Linked DNA regions of Homo sapiens: region 1 is linked to region 2. The links come from fine-mapping of genetic effects on gene expression. Tissue or cell type: tibial nerve. Region 2 holds a variant in brackets; the other region holds the start of a gene. All regions are shown on one strand. Distances are from middle to middle. Region 1 holds the start of DAAM2-AS1 (DAAM2 antisense RNA 1). Region 2 overlaps DAAM2 (dishevelled associated activator of morphogenesis 2).

What was found. PIP is the estimated chance that this variant, and not a neighbour inherited with it, causes the effect.
Region 1: DAAM2-AS1 starts here. The variant in region 2 is fine-mapped to the expression of DAAM2-AS1 in tibial nerve (GTEx, PIP above 0.99). The same link has a PIP of 0.9 or more in skeletal muscle, subcutaneous fat and sun-exposed skin.

Annotation. Positions count from the first base shown.
Region 1 is chr6:39,895,124-39,900,495 of GRCh38, reverse strand. It overlaps DAAM2-AS1 (DAAM2 antisense RNA 1), which reads left to right and starts at 3,116. Exons shown (of 4, transcript NR_125831.1): 1 at 3,116-3,299. DAAM2 (dishevelled associated activator of morphogenesis 2) reads right to left here. Exons shown (of 25, transcript NM_001201427.2): 20 at 3,516-3,684; 21 at 3,214-3,321; 22 at 1,559-1,619; 23 at 288-419. RefSeq lists enhancers at 2,381-2,897, 3,198-3,697.
Region 2 is chr6:39,901,194-39,906,565 of GRCh38, reverse strand. DAAM2 (dishevelled associated activator of morphogenesis 2) reads right to left here. Exons shown (of 25, transcript NM_001201427.2): 24 at 5,094-5,264; 25 at 1,697-4,753. The coding sequence ends at 4,529. It overlaps MOCS1 (molybdenum cofactor synthesis 1), which reads left to right. Exons shown (of 11, transcript NM_001358530.2): 11 at 1-2,396. The coding sequence ends at 209. Among named protein-coding and RNA genes, the nearest start is that of DAAM2-AS1, 6.5 kb to the right of the region's middle. The variant G/C (reference allele first, on the strand shown) is at 2,102.

The DNA of each region.
Region 1 (5,372 bases), 6.1 kb after region 2:
GCGTTCATATCTGTCAAGTGGGAAATAACCTTTCAACAAACCCATAAGGTAGGTGGTGACAAATCATTAAAACACTTAACATGGTGCCTGATATCTGATAAATGGACCATGATCTTTGCGGTATGTGGTTATCATTGCTTGTCTTGTTAAGAGCGAAGAAACGGTTTTCTCTCAAAGCTCTGTAACTCTGGGTTTGTCCCTCCTGGGCTGTCTGTGGTAGGAATGGGTGAAGGAGCTTGTTTAGATAAGGCTGGGTTGGCAAGCAGTGGGGGTTGGGGCACCCTTACCTTGTCCCTGGCCTCATTTAGCTGGTCCTCCAGCTCGGAGAAGCTGAAGCTGGACACCGTGATGAAGTCGCTCATGACAGGGACAAACTTGTCACTGGGCTCCCGTACCTGGCGCCTCTGATACTCCAGCTCCTGAGGAGGGAGGGTGAAGTGCTGCTTAGACTGGTGCCAAGATGAGAGTCGGGTGCAGGGGTCACCACATCTCCCCTCGTCACTCACAGGACATTGAGCCCTTTGGAAGAGGGAACACCCTGCATCTCAAAGTTCTAAGGATGGCAAAGACTATGAGCTAACATTAGCAGCCAGCCCACCCTGCCATCTTTCTTTCTCTAGAGCACTGAGACCCAACATGTGACCTGGGGCCAGCAGCATCACCTAGGAAATTATGAGAAATACAGACTCTCAGACCCACAGGATCAGAAGCTGCATTTTAACAAGACTCATCTTTACAAGACTCCAGGTGACTCATGCACAAATTAAAGAGACATTTTTCTAAAGCTCCCAGCTGATTCAGAAGCTGCTGGTCCATGTACCGCACTTTGAGTAGCACTTAACAGGACTATAAAATTGTAAATTTGGAAATCATCTTCCCCCACCGTAGTGGCAACAAAACGTTCTTTGTCATCCTTAATCTGTCTCTAAAGTCCATTCTTCCCTTACCCACTGCCTCTCTCCTCAGTGAAGACGGAACGGGTCCCTTCTTCCTAGGTGTGGGGGACAAGACTTAGAGACATCCCCATACTGGGCCAGTCTGGCTCACTTCCCCACTCCTCTACTGGTGTTTTCTGGAAGGCTAGGGCCAGAGATAGTATCAGCCGAGAAGCCATCAGAACGGGAATGGTGGGAACAAAAGACCTGGGTCCTCCACTGGCCCAGGAAACAGGCAGAGAGACATAAGGAAGAACCTTCTGGGTACATCGGTCCCACTGCCACATTGCGTGCTTCCTGCCCCTAGCTGGCAGTCAAGGGATGAGGATTCTTTTTCCCATGCACTTGAATCCAATGTAGGCATGGGTCAGATGTATGGTTCATTCCACTCCACTGCCAAATAGATACCAAGTTGGACAGTAACATGGGTATAGTCTTAGGTAACCCCTTTTAAAAGGCTCAAACTTAAGCCCCAGTAATCCAGTTATCCTTTGGGAGGGCTGACCCTGTGCTAGAGGCTGTACCCATTGTTTTTTGCCCCTGTGTAGGAGCTTAGGGTGCAGTGACGAACAGTGTTTGCTGACAGCAGCCCTCACCCAGGTAGGCACTGACAAGGTACTCACCACCTCCACCGCTCTCAGGCCCCTCCTGAGGTTGCCCACCTCCTTCTCCAGTTCTGCTAGGCTGTAAGGAGACACAGAGGGAAGGGAATGAGGACCATCAACTCCCGCCTTGAGGTGCTAAGGCTGGTTCAGGGAGAGGGCAGAGCCAAGCACAGTGGCCTGGGAGTCGGTGAGCCTGGGTTCCAGCCCTGGTGTGGCCATTGATGTTGGCCCTGACAAAGCACCTCCCCTTCATGCCTCTGTCTGTGCATCAATAAATTAACAAGGTGAAGCCTGCATTCTATAGATCTTTCCAGGTCAGAAATGTCATGCTGCAATATCAGAAGATTTCCAACCTGTGGCCTCTGGCTTAGACCTATTTATTTTTATTACTACCAGGTAATGCTTATAAGCTCTTTATGTGATCCTGCAAGCAATAGCATTCGATACCAGTGAGCCATTTACCACTATGTTTCTAGTTTTCCTGGAGATGACATCTATCAGCCTAGATGTTCGTGTCTGATATCTTGCCTAGCAGATGCTGTTGGTGCCCCACCCACATTTCCTTGGACCATCCATTGTAGGGCATGGCCCCAACTCTTCCAACTGTACGCACACTCTTTTTGAGGCCAAGCTCTTTCCACCTGTACCTGTGGCCAGAGAGTTATTCCCTGCCCCTGCAGAGCCCCTCAGCCAATTACTGAGAGGAGATGCTCTCTGATTGCCCCAGCAACCTTGCCCTTTGGGTGGGAAAACTGAAGTAACTATTCCACACTGTTTCCCAGAATTCCTCATGGGGTTAAGCACCAATTGCCTGTGATTGGTAACTGGCTTAATAATGTTTGTTACTGGCATTCTTTCTATCTCTGGCTCACTTCCCCATTCTTCTACTGGTATTTTCTGGAAGCATCTCTGAAATAAGGATTTAAGAGCAAATTGTCTTTGTTTGGTTTTTCCCAGAAGCAGACCCTGAGACATGGCCCATTCCTACTCAGCCTGAGGCAGGATAGGTAGTCAAGGAAGTGAGCACTTCTCAGAACACAGCAGCTGTGGTGGTGCCCATACAGTCAACACAATAAACCTCAGCATTCGCATTGTAATTGAGCTCATTCAAGCAAAGCTATCTGCAGTAGGGACTTTCCCCTCTGGAAAGCATGCGCATTTTGATTTTACCTATCCTCAGACTGGCCCTTTGCTCATATAATAGTAAAAAAACACACCCCTAGGTGGAGATTTAAGGTGCTAATGAGACATGCGATGTATGAAAAAGCACACACAGCTACTACACATGTGCACCCAGAGGACCACTCAGAGCCTGCTTCCCAATACCTCTTCCCACCTCTTTATGAATAATCGTGTAAGTCTCCCATACTGGGAGTCTTCCTGGTGCCAGTCTTGGCTGTCTCATCCTTACAAGCAGCCCACCCTGAATCCTCTCTCTCTCAGGGTGTACTGTCTATTCTGCACCTAACTCACAAGATATCTTCTTTTGCAATACATTGTTCTATGCTAAACCCCCTTTGCTGTGTGTCTGTTTAAATTCTTTTGAACTCAGAAGACAAGAACCGAGGTCTCACACCAGCCATCATCAAGCCCAGAGTAGACCCCAAAAGAGGAAAGTAAGACAAGAATGAGGGTCATCATGGGGAGAAGGAAGTCTTGGAGAGAACCCTCACTTGACTTTGGCAGCTTCTGGAAGATGTTGCAGCTCTGAAGGCATGTTTAGAATATCAGGAAAATGCTTCTCCAGGATCATGATCAGGTAATGGAGCAGAGAGATGTTTCTGTGGATGAAAGTCAGGTCAGTGGTAAGTGACAGAGGAAACTGGGCACGAGGGTCAGAGGGTCAGAGGATGGAGTGTTAAGAGAAAGGGGTGATGAGTCTTAGGATGTTCCCGTCCTAATAGAGGGAGGATGTGAGAGGCCAGGGTAGGGTGAGATAGAGGCCAAGGAAGTGGCCGGGAAGGGAGGTCCTCACCTGTCGATGCTGGACTTGGTGTCAGCGATCTTGTTGAGGCTGGCCACCCGGAACCCGTAGGCGCCCCCACGCTGCCCTTTGTTCATGAAGTTGCCTATGGCTAGGATGACCTCTAGCATCTGTCTAAGACGCTTGCTGCGGACCAGCTCCCGGGAGGCCAACAGGATGGCTGGGAGAGGAGGCACAGGTCAGAGGCCTGCATGGGCTAGGCAGGGCAGCAGTTCTCATTGCACCCCAGGAAGATGCCACCGCAAAGTTCAGAAAAGGGGCTGTCAAATGCCTTCAACTCTCAGTGAGGCAGAGATTATACCTACTCCTCAGCAGACCCATCGATTTCACATTCACCCACCTCCAGGGGAAGCAGACACATTCACCAAGGCCAATTCACCAGATACCCCATTTGTAGGACGTGCCAGCTCTTCCCAAGAAGACAATTTCAGAAGATCTTTTCTTACATGTATTTAAAGATTATTAAGAAGGCCGGTTGCGGTGGCTCACACCTGTAATCCCAGCACTTTGGGAGGCCGAGGCAGGGAGATCACTTGAGTCAGGAGTTCGAGACCAGCCTGGCCAACGTGGTGAAACCCTGTCTCTACTAAAAATACAAAAAATTAGTCAGGTGTGGTGGTGCATGCCTATAATCCCAGATGCTTGGGAAGCCAAAGCAAAAGAGTCCCTTGAACCCAGGAGGCTGAGGCTGCAGTGAGCCAAGATTGCCTCACTGCACTCCAGCCTGGGCAAGAGCATGAGACTCTGTATCAAAAAGAAAAAAGAAAAAAGAAAAAAAGATTATTCAGATATTCTTTCCATGAATATACTCATGAATATGACACTTTTACTTTTCTAAACCTAGCACTTAACTTCAGCATTTTACCTATTATGGGATTGCTTCTGCCTGTCTTGAAATGCTATATTCTATTGGTTTTTTGGAAAGAAAAAAAATCAATTAAATAACATATTCTAAATTATAATATTCTATTATTTTTGTTCTATAAAATAATGGCATGCTTTTCAGTTGATAGTGTCTAAGATTTGATGAAATAAGCTACTTGACATCCTGTTGAATGTCATTTTTAAGATTTTTCCAACCTTTGGGCATCTTAACCATTTTCCCCCAATGCTCTAAATGTTATCTTTGCCAGAAATACAAACTAAGCTAACAGTAACCAAAACTTCAATAATTCATTCTGCTGTGTATGCTCTGGCCCTTCCTCAGCTATGATGTCTTTATGGTGGGTGTGCAGAAGGGGGACACAAATCCTAAACTGAGATTTTGTCTACTAGTTACGGAATATGATTTTTGAATATTCAGTGTGGCAACAAAAAGACCAGATTATCCTGTGATCTGTGGCTTATGCCAAACTGAACATTCTTTAAGATGCTGCTAGGAAGATAAAATGAAAACGACTTTGCTAAAAGTTTGTAGAAAGCTTCGAACACAGTTAGAAATAAGTAACTGTTAAAAAGAAGCTATACCAGCACTTTGGGAGGCTGAGGCAGGCAGATCACCTGAGGTCAGGCATTCGAGAACAACCTGGGTGACACGGTGAAACCCCATCTCTACTAAAAATACAAAAATTAGCCAGGCGTGGTGGTGCACACCTGTAATCCCAGTTACTTGGGAAGCTGAGACAGGAGAATTGCTTGAACCCAGGAGACAGAGGTTGCAGTGAGCCGAGATCACACCACTGCACTCCAGCCTGGGCGACAGAGTGAGGCTCCGTCTCAAATAAATAAATAAATAAATAAATAAGTAAATAAAGTTGTAAAAATGAATAGTAAGGTTTGTCAGTAGCTTTTAAGTTGAACATGTACATACTCTATAACCTAAAAGCCACATTATTCTTGGTGGGTATT
Region 2 (5,372 bases):
TGGACAGCACACGCCATGCCGTGAAGATCCAGGCATCTTGCCGGGCTCGGGGCCCCACCGGGGTGGAGATGGAGGCCCTGACCTCTGCTGCAGTGGCCGCCCTCACCCTGTATGACATGTGCAAGGCTGTCAGCAGGGACATCGTGTTGGAGGAGATCAAGCTCATTAGCAAGACTGGTGGTCAGCGGGGGGACTTCCATCGGGCTTAGCACCTGCCCTTCTCACCCATGGCCCACCCAGGCCTGGAGCTGGGATGCAATGTAGGCTGAGGGAAAGACGTCAGGTTCCTTTAATCACAGTCACTGTTTGTTTACCTTGAGCAGTAAACCCGAAGTCAGCCTGCTCTACTACTAACAAACAGGCCTGCTGCTAGATGATCTCTAATGACCAATGGGGCTTCCTTTCTATAGGGAGGATACCAGCAGGCCCTTAAGCCTTCCAGGACACTAAGGTCGTGGGAGCGGGACTGCAACAAGCAATGCCAGATAACTGAGAAATCATGTTCTTTGTGGACTATTTCAGACAACCAGGTTCCGACAGTCCAGCCCAGAACTTTTCCTTCTCATTTTGGGTTTTCTCTTCTCCTGCTTTCCTGGGGAGAGATTAAGCGCTCATTAAGCAGAGGAGCCCACTTTGAGGAGAGCAAAGCACAAGCTTGCCTGAAGAATGGATCCCAACTTCTCCCCGGCAGCTCTGCCTCCCTAAGTCTGTGAAGCCGCAGCCCTGCCCTGTCCTGTCCTGTCCTGACTTCATCTCTCCTTCTGCCCAAGTCTGTGTCCCATCAGACTTGCAGCCTTTCAGCTTAACAGTTGCCCGGTCCTGCTGGCCCCTTTTCCTCTGGCCCCCCTCTTCTGAAACAGGATGTGCACACATGGGCCATAGCCCTAAGGACTCCTGCCAGACCACACAGCCCACACCTGGCCCTGTTCACGGCTGTTCCACCCACCCCTCTTTATTCTGGAGCATATCAGGGAAAGAAAAGTTGATGATAGATTGCCTTCACCCTCACAGCGCACAAATAAAGCTACGATGCCAACTTTGCAGATGCAAGAATGAAGACACTGTGTGGGTAGGGCACTGAGCTGCTGCAGTTTCACAGGGAAGGCTGCACCTATCAATCAATCAATCAATCCTATCCCAAGACACAGTTCCCTGAGGGAAGAAGAGGAGGGACCTGGAAAGGCCTAAGGGTGTACTCTCTGTATAGCCCCGCTATGGGAAAATAAAGTGGAGTAGGGGGCATAGAAATGCACCATCTAAGGGAAATCTTTTGTCAGGTGGTGGCCAGGGGTGTTCAAAGCTCATTGCTTGCATTACCAGCTATTAGAGAGATCAGAGAGGGCAATTAATTAGAGGCTCCTGGTTCTCACATCCCAAACACACACAGTTCTGGCCTGCTGGGCTCTCTAACTTGGATGTCTTTGAGTCCTCAGTGGTGCCCCCTGCCTGCCTCCCCTCTGCCCTATGCCAAGGTGTGCTGGCAAATATTAAACAACCAGCTCTCTGGAAAAGACAATTTGTGATATAAATACTCCCATGTTGAATAATTTCAAGCTACCAGTATGTCAAATGGCTTGCAAAATTTCTGAAAATGTAAACAATTGGTTCTCACAGAGCTGGTACAAGCTGGCTCCAGCACACTCTCAGCCCACCCCAGATCCCCTCATAGGAAGAAGGCACAAGTTTAAAGGCAGACTGGGTAGGGATGGTATGAATTTAATATTTTTTAGTATTACAATATATTCTTATAAAAAAGGTGCAAGTGAAAAAGGACACTGTAGATTATGTCCATTAGCCTCATTTGTCATCTGAGGCAGCTGGTGAGAACAGCCTTGGCGTGAAGGCATCCCTGGTAGAAGTCGGGGGAGATAGATAGTCACAGTTCCCCAGTTGGTGGAAATGGGATGGGAGTAGGGAGAGGCTGGAACAGACCCTTCCCCATTCACCTGGAGAATTTTCTCCTCCCACTGCCCTAAACACTTTATTTCCATCACAGGGGAGAAATGCTGCTGAGAAGGTTGTGTTTGTTAGGTTGATGACGAATTTTACATTGGCCACAAAATTAGCTAGAGAAACTTATCTAAAGGTGGCAGGAGCAGTG[G/C]GGAGGGCATGAAGAAAGCAAGACCAAGAAACAACCTATTAAGGACCAGCTCAGCCACCCCGACTGGGCACCAGCCCCTTCTTACTCAGTTGAGTATGAGTCCATGGTCCAAGGCACTGTTGGAGATCTGGCTACAGTGGCATCTAGCACCAGAGCCACTGGCCAGATGTAGAAAATAAATAGAAAAATATCTTTCTTTTAGAGTGAGAAGGCTGAGCTCTGGAACAACGTATTTGTGTCCTCTGTCAACAGTTGAACCAAATTCTGCTTTTCTGAAGATCAAATGTATCTTGAACAGCTTCCATAGTCCTTTTGTTTCCAGGTGCGTATCCAGTCTTCCATGGTGGGTGGGAATGCCAGACACGCTTGTGGAGCCCTCCCCTGTTCCCTGCCCCTGAGGGGGTTAGGTTGACATCAGCCTGGTCAGTTTGGGAGAGGACCTTTAGAGGCCTCACCCACAACCTCCCATCTTCCCCAACACTTGTCTTGCAGTGGGAGCTCTTGGGGCTGCAGATGCATATAGCCAAACTCTCTGCAGCTGTTCTGCCTGGAAGCCTTCATCTTGCCCTCACCTGGGTTCCAGGATGGCCTCTTCACACCTGTGTCAGCCAGGCTTGCACTTGCTCAGATCCCTCCCACCAGAACACACACACACCGCCCGCCCCCTCAAACCAACGCACATGCTGGGCTCACCGACCCTGTGTTTCTTCCCCCCCGCAGCTACTACGGTCCCAGCCCCAGGAGTTGGATGCAAGTGAAAGGCAGAAGATAGGCAGCTGAGAGTAGGCCCAGCTCACCAGTCTCCACTGGCAATAACCCTGAGCCAGGGATTAGGTTGGAAAGTGAGAAACACAGGGAAGGGCAGAAGGGCCAAGAGCTCATTGATGGTAGAGGTTAGGCAGGGCCAGTCTCAAAGAAGATGAAAGGCCAACTCGGAACGTGGTATTGAATAAGAGCCTTGATGGAGTTTTAGAAAAATTTTGTCTAGATACAGCCATCCCATCCACCAAGGCCAGCATGAGATGGACAAAATGGAAGGTGGCAGTGGATGGGAGGACCAGAAGGAACCCCTTGCAAGTTGGGCTGAAGAACCAAATTGGGTACCAGAAATGGGGTGGCCCCCCTCTCAGCCTTCCTCCTTGGCACCTTCAGGTGATGTGCTCCCCAGAGGATATCAGCCTTCCTCCTCCATCCCCATCTCCCCAGTTTCCCTTGCCTGCTCTGCTGTTCGCACCATCTGAACGCCTGAGAGGAGGGGCCACCCTTAGAGACAGCATGTTAATGTAGAGGGCAGCTCTGGCCCTCAGACCTCTCAGGAACCAACTCCCCAACGCCAGTGGACACATGGTTCCAAGTGGCCACCTGCAGGCTGGACAGAGGCTGCTGTGGCTTCTGCCTTGAAGCTAGTGTTAGAGAAGGGGTGGGAGGGCCTGAGCAATTTATATGAAGTAGAGAACTATGGGATGGAGCTAAGCATTCAAGTGCTGCCCTCTGCTGAGGGGCTGTAGGGGACTCCAAGGCAACATTTGAGGTCACTGTCTGGCTTCACAACAATGGCCAGGTGTCCAGGAGATGGGGACATGGGAGATGCCCAAAAGGCATGAGGTGTGGTGATGCATGAGGTCTGTCTTGAGCCCCTCGCCAGATTCATCAAGCACCTGGTAGTGAGCCATAGCTGTGGAAACCCAAGGTGAGTCTTCTAGGACTGTGGATTAGTAGACAGGATGGAGGTGAGGGTAGAGAAGGAAGGGAAAGATACTTAAGACATGCAGGGAGAGGCCAGAGGACTTGTGACATGGGAAACAGACACTGCTACTCTGTCCTGATGGCTTTGGTCCCTGCATCATCCTTCCAACATTGACTGTTCTCTGGAACCTACCAGAGCTGATCTAACTAGAATATATAATGCCTCCTCTGTTCCCATTCAAGAGGAAAGTTTGCCCCCAGGTCAATGTTCTGTTGAGCCTCCCCTTGAGAGAAGGGAGTCTGGATTCCCTCACCAGATTCCCTCTCAGGGGCTCCCTCCATCATTGCTCCCCGTGCTACACAGGAACTCTGGACAAGGCTGTGGACCTCTCCAGTCTAGATCTGGAACTGTTCTGTGCCAGCACATGGGTGCCCATGGTAGGGGATGGGGAGCAGGGCCCCTTCAGCCTGGGGTTACCTGGCCTGAGGCCATCCAAGGCAGCCTCAGAATAATACCTGGGGCCAGGGCACAGAAGGAATCATGTGAAGGGGAGATAAGAGGAGCCCCTTAAGGTAAGCGTGGGGAGACACCTGGTCCAGCCACACACAGCCCCCCATCCCAGGACCCAGCCCAAGGCTCTAAACCAAGCACCAAATGGTTTAAATATCACCACCTCCTCCACTCAGCCCCATTCTCACCAGTCCCTGTCTCCCGGCCTCCTGTGTGGCTAGTTCCCCAGGTCAATAATTTAGCCGGTTTATTGCCCGCTCCCGGGTAACTTCCAGGGCCTGGCTCCCTGATCGCTTGCGGCTGCGCTTGAGCTTGCATAAGTCCTTGTCGAAGACCTCCCCAGAGCGCAGGGCCGACACCAGGTCATCGAACTCTCCTCCCTCCTCCAGCGAGCTGCCTGCAGCCAGGACCTTCCGCTGCCGCTGCCACCGCTCACGTTCCCTCTGCTCCTTCAGCTGCGGGCGGGGGGCCAAAGATAGGAACCCTCTCAGGGAGAGGCGCTGAGGCCAGGGCAGCCCCCCAACCCTGGGCTAACTCCTAGGCCATGGTCATGCTGCCTGCCTGTATCTGTTGGCCCCACTTTCTTCCTGCCTAGGACATACAGGCCCCCAGCTTCACACCACTCTCTTCCCTCAGGCTGGGAAGAAGTTTCTCTCTCCTGGGGCTGACATCCAACCCCTATGGTGTTCCTCAGTTCCTCAGTCTCTGCCCTCCTCCCACACACCCCAGTTTGGGGGTGTTCTCCCCAAGTAGCACCCGTCTCCCCTCAGTCCCAGGCCTGGCACTGCCCCTCACCATGGCTTCCATGCGCGCCCGCCGCTCCTCCTCCTCCTTCCTCCTCCTCATGGCCTCTAGATCCTGCCGGGCCTCTGAGAAGGCCTGCAAGAAGGTATCAAAGATGCCAAAGAATTCGTCTGGCTGCATCTTGCTGTCATGCTCCCCGAAGTGCATCAAGGCCTTGGCGAACTGTCAAGGGACAGAACAGGATTGGTGGAGAGTGCCCTGGAGCATGCTGGGCTCAGCCCCTGAGGTTAGCTGGGTTCTAGCCAGAGCAGAGCCCAGCGCAAGGCTGGG